2 separate regions of the Homo sapiens genome follow, and region 2 is linked to region 1. Evidence: fine-mapped expression QTL. A gene starts in region 1. The other region holds a variant in brackets. All regions are shown on one strand. Distances are between the middles of the regions.

Region 1 (2,789 bases):
TTTTATTGGTGATGATGAATGGGAATGAAATCAGGGGGCTGTCTACTAGAGCCTGGAATAAATATGCTGCTTTGTGGATTTTTAAGCCCTTCTCTTCTGTTTCCTTGAGCAGTGTGGATAGCAGAGGAGGTCACCACATTACTTTTGTGTGCCTTCCCTGAGCTCCTGTTCCAGCCATTCTCCTGTTTTCCTTTCTGGTGGGAGGAGGCTGGGCACAGTGGCCTCGTGGAATGTTGTCGGCTGCCTTGCTGGAGGGCTGGGTTTGGTGGAGGGGAAGGGCAGTGGTTCTTGCCCTTGGGCTTCCACCCAGCCCTGTAAAGTCTCACACAGACACACATGGATTCAGAAGCCAGACAATTTTATTTGGGGGGCAAACATTGACACTTTTGGGTGTGGACCTTGCATGCAGACATATCAAGGGATGACATGTCACTTCTTCCCAAAGCGTTGAGGGGCAGCCAGGCTCCAGAACTGGGAATTCAGCCCCTCTCCAGCCCGGGGACTCAGCCATTCATTCCTCCAGGATCCCTGGGTATTTCTGCCAAACCTTAGGAAAGATTTGTCCTCAGGTCCCCGCAGTCTCCCTTCTCTAGCCCCCTTCCTTCTCCTCTTCCTCTGCCTCCTGCCCTTTCCACCCCCAGCCCCTGCCATGCTTGTGTCCCTTTCAGACTCACCTCTGGGGCTGAAACAGGAAGGCTTGGCTCCGGCCAGGTCTCTCCATTGCCTGGAGCAGGTAGTGCAACAGTGACCCAGAGGTCTGGGCATCCTGTGGTGGGAGGGGTTCGCTGTCTTCCTCCTGTGCCAAGGGGGTATCAGGGAAGGAAGATGGGCAAATACCCTGGACACGTAAGTCACAAGGGGAAGGGACTGGCTTCCAGGGGCAAGTGGTAGGAGGCTGCGGAACCATTTCCTCAGATGTGAGGACCTAATGACAACCTTGGCAGCCAGAGAAAGTATCAGAACCTAGAGCACAAGTCTCAACCGAAGTAGAGGCAATGGTGATATGGGGATGGGACACACACTCACCGCGGAGAGCTGGTCTTCCTGCTGGCCTCCTGGCCCTTCAGCACAGCCCCCGTCTATTAACAGCAGCAGCACCAGCAGTGCAGCAGCCTGCCTAGAATCCATGCTGCCACCTACCCTCCTACAGCCACCCCAACCTCTTATACCTGCTGTTCCCCCACCCCCAGCCTCACAGTAGCCTTAGGGGAATCTAGAGCAGGCAAATGGAAATGCAGGGCTCATTAGGAGCCACCTGGGATCTCCTCCCATGGCGCCCCCAGGACTTCATGCTCTCAGCCTCCTGCCCCCGGCCCCTAAGCCTGGAGTTACAGACTTTATTAGATGCATAAATCCTGTCTCCAGAGCTCAAGAAGCATCATTAGTTGCAGACGCTTTGTCAGAGCCAGGCCCTGGGGAGCCTTAGACGAACCCCTAATCCCTCAACAGGTTGGAGAGCTTGTTTATCACTTCCCCTCTTTCCTAACCTGTAGACTAAAGCACAAGAAACTCATGTCAGGAGGGGTTAAGTAGGATGTCCTGGAGTGGAAGAGGAGTGGGAAGAGCCAGGGTCAGAGTCTGTGAGGATGACCAGGCCTGGTCCTCTGTGCCTGGGGCTGGCAGTCAGGGCAACACAGCCCATCCTCTGCTTGTGTGCCTCTTGGAGGCTACTCAGATTTGCCTGTGGATAGAAAAAATATATTCAACTTCATGATGATGGAGAGAATTTAACTTTTTTTCTTTTTGAGATGGAGTTTCGCTCTTTTTGCCCAGGCTGGAGTGCAGTGGCGCGATCTCGGCTCACTGCAACCTCTGGCTCCTGGGTTCAAGTGATTCTCCTGCCTCAGCCTCCCAAGTAGCTGGGACTACAGGCGTCAACCACCATGCCCAGCCTGTATCTTTTTTTTTTTTAATTAAAAACCATTTTTTTTTTGGCCGGGTGCAGTGCCTCACACCTGTAACCCCAGCACTTTGGGAGACCAAGGCGGGTGGATCACCTGAGGGCAGGAGTTCGAGACCAGCCTGGCCAACATGGTGAAACCCTGTCTACTAAAAATACGAAAATTAGCTGGGCGTGGTGGTAGGCACCTGTAATCCCAGCTACTCAGGAGGCTGAGGCAGGAGAATCGCTTGAATCGGGGAGGCAGAGGTTGCAGTGAGCTGAGATGGCACCACTACACTCCAGCCTTGGCAAAAAGAGAAACTCTGTCTCAAAAAAAAAAAATTATTAAGATATAGAGGGAGGCTACAGGATTTTGGAGCCCACTGAATGAGTGTGGCTTCCAATCTTTGCAGACAGACCCCCATCCTCACTAGAGAGCACTGCTTCCGACCTGCCTCATCGCCCTTCCTATAGTCACTCTCCACAGCTGAAGCACTGCTGCCACCCTGTGGTCACAGCTCCTCATTGCCAGCTCCGGCCATTTCCTTTTCCTAGAATAGACCTCTGCAGAGGAAGTGAGGAGGGTGAGGCTGAGTGGAGGTGCTAGGGTCCAGTCTCCAGGGAGTCCCAGAAGGACAGGAGCAGGCTACTGTGGGGCTGGACTATCATTCTGACCCCGACTCTGGTCTCCACAGCCTCTGCCTGGCCCTGGCTCTCATATAGAGTAGCCTAGAATCCTGTCTTAAGAAAAATCAGAATCACTAATCCTCAGGGAGAGGCCTTCAAAGCCATATGGTGCAGGTTCCTTCTAATCCTCGAGTCCCTTTTGGAGCATCCCCACCAGTGTGGGTCTCTAGCTTGTGCTGAGGAAGAGCCATGACGTAAAGGCCTTGGCCTCTGCTTGAGC
Region 2 (2,789 bases), 840 kb before region 1:
CTGACTTAGCTTTCCCTGTCCAGTTCTCCTAGGACCTACTGTTGTGACATCCACTTTCGCCCCATCAGAAATTCTCCACTGGTGAAGCATGTGATAGACTATATTCCCACCCCACCCAGGGACCCCACTTAGGAGAACTGCTACCCCCTGAGGTCTTTCCTAAGAGATTGGGCCCTAAATCCTCCCAGTCCCTATCCGCTCACCTTGCTAGTTACTTGTCTCGCTAGGTAGGTATGGTCACCAAGGGCCCTCCCTGGCCCAGGATTGGTCAGACATAGCTACTCCTGATGGCCAGTTGAACTCAGCCTGCCAGAGACAGCTCCATTATAACCCCTTTACCGAAGGAAATATGGTCTAGGCAGGTGAAAAGACACCCAGTAGAGCCAATAAATGCACATTTCAGACCTTTGAATGTGCTTTTCTAGGACAACATTCCTCACCCAAGGGGCCCAAAATGAAGGACCCCATGTGTTGTTTTGTTGCGGGATTCTTAACCCATTTTGTCGGAAATAATCAGAAATAAATAAGGCATGCCCCCCACCCACTCACCCATTTAGGACAACACAAATCATTGGAACAGACATACTTGCAGCTACCTATATTATGTTATTAATGCCAGGACACAGGCAGGCAAAATGGGATGGGAACACAAAAGAATGTTTTTTTCCCCACGGGAGAGAGAAGGAGTCACAGAAGTTCTGGCATTTAGCTGGACCTTGAAGAAAATGTTAATGATCAATATTAAAATACATGCTAATAATTATACTTACTTTCTGGTTACAGCTGCATTCATTCATCTTTACGTAGGAAGAGGGTCTAGAATGGAAAGGGAAACTTAATAGTTCTTAGTTGAGGTGAATTTTCTGTTCATTTTAATTTTCTTTCATATGGTTACTATGCTGTTTGTGCAATTTTTCAGTAAGGATAAAAAATACATCCTAGTAATTTCATTTGGACTATTTCCCACCCCTCCCCTTTAAACATCCTTATGAGGTGGCTGAAGACATAGCTCCTTCAAAGCTGGAAAATTTCTAAAGCTATAAGGAACTGCATGGCAACCGGGCATGATGGCACATGCCTGTAGTCCCAGCTACTCGGGAGGCTGAGGCAGGTGGGCTGCATGTGCAGCCTCAGGCTGGCCTCTCCTTCATGACAGACCCCCGCCTGTCAACACCCCCACAGGGTGTACACAACAGGAAATTGACCAGGATTGAACCAAATCCACCATAAACAACCCCTGCTCAAGAACTGAACTCCAATATTTTTTAACTGAACAAACATAAATGTTCACCAAAACACCTATAAGATCAGCTCAAACCAGAACCAAACCTTTATGCTTTTTAAAATAACTGCTCAAAATATTCTGGGAGTTGAGTCTGGGAATCTTGGGAAGGAAAAAAAAAAGAGAAAGAAGAATCTGGAGGACTTGTAAGGAGAATGGGGAAAGAAGGCAGCCTTGGGATCTCCAGGTTGGAAGTGGTCCAATTTCCGAACCAGGGCTGGACTCTCTGCTCAAGTGCCCTTGCCTTGGGAAAGACCCTTCTACTTGTTTCTCCAAGTCAGCTTAACTCCTCTCACAAGACAGCTCCTGCACTGTGGGGCAACTGGGCCGGGGTGAAAGTTCTTCTTTAGAGTGACTCCTGTAACTTCCAAGCAAGAAGAGGCTGACTCTCTTCCCTACAAACTAT[G/A]GTGTGGTTTATCTTCATTGAAAGTGACCATTGGCCAGGTACAGTAGTTCACGCCTGTAATCCTAGCACTTTGGGAGGCCAAGGCTGGTAGATCACTTGAGCTCAGAAGTTCATGATAAGCCCATCTCTAAAAAACATGGAAAACCCCATCTCTAAAAAAGAACAAAAATTGGCTAGGTGTGGTGGCGTGTGCCTGTAGTCTCAGCTACTTGGAATGCTGAGGTGGGAGGATCGCCTGCACCCAGGGAGGTTGAGGCTGCAGTGAGCTGAGATTGTGCCACCACACTCCAGCCTGAGCAACAGAACAGCACCCTGTCTCAAAAAAAAAAAAAAAGAGGAAAGGAAGAAAGAAAGAAAGAAAGAAAGAAAGAAAGAAAGAAAGAAAGAAAGAAAGAAAGAAAGAAAAAGGAGGGAAGGGGAGGAGAGGGAAGGGGAGGGGAGGGGAGGGAAGGGAAGGGAAGGGAAGGGAAGGGAAGGGAAGGGGGGAGGAAGGAAGGAAGGAAAGAAAGAAGGAAGGAAGGAAGGAAAGAAAGAAGGAAGGAAGGAAGGAAAGAAAGAAAGAAATCATCACACCCCACCCTCAGCCGTCTTCCTTGATCTTTTTTCCAGTCCTTTCTCTGCTCTAGTTTTTGCCTCTGTGCTCACATTAGCTTTTCAATGGGTCACTTTAACTTCCAAGATGCTCAGGACTGAGCTCAACACCCAGAGAAAAGAGCTTTCTCCCACGATCAAAGATTCTCTGTATCAGGAAGGATTTAGCTGCTTCCTTATGTCTTTGCAACTTGTGAACAGAATCAAGAGAAGTCTTTTTGTTTCTATTTTTCCCAGTAAGCTTTCTGAAATATCCAAAGGATGTAATCTTCATCCTCACCCTCCCTGGGAGCCGCTGCGTTGTGGTGACCATCACAGGTACCATCATTGCATGTAGAGAAGCCTTTGTACCAGCAGAGGACACTCCATACTGCCTAGAGAGAATACGCAGGGCCTATTGACAGATTGGAAATCGGGCGTGGGCCCCTGGGAGGGGTGGGGATAAACCCGCATGAACTTGGGAAGGTCGCAAGTTGACTAAGACTGCGCCATATTTCTGATAATGGATTG

The links. PIP is the estimated chance that this variant, and not a neighbour inherited with it, causes the effect.
Region 2: its variant is the best candidate, but not a certain one, in a credible set for the expression of NPFF in sigmoid colon (GTEx, PIP 0.62).

Annotation. Positions count from the first base shown.
Region 1 is chr12:53,506,347-53,509,135 of GRCh38, forward strand. NPFF (neuropeptide FF-amide peptide precursor) reads right to left here and starts at 1,138. Exons shown (of 3, transcript NM_003717.4): 1 at 1,027-1,138; 2 at 675-796; 3 at 342-547. The coding sequence starts at 1,128. The coding sequence ends at 430. ATF7-NPFF (ATF7-NPFF readthrough) reads right to left here. Exons shown (of 15, transcript NR_159377.1): 13 at 1,488-1,681; 14 at 675-796; 15 at 342-547. It overlaps TARBP2 (TARBP2 subunit of RISC loading complex), which reads left to right. Exons shown (of 9, transcript NM_134323.2): 9 at 1-85. It also overlaps a transcript of ATF7 not described here. RefSeq lists an enhancer at 2,259-2,553 and a silencer at 2,691-2,789.
Region 2 is chr12:52,665,050-52,667,838 of GRCh38, forward strand. No RefSeq gene overlaps it. Among named protein-coding and RNA genes, the nearest start is that of KRT1, 14 kb to the right of the region's middle. The variant G/A (reference allele first, on the strand shown) is at 1,689.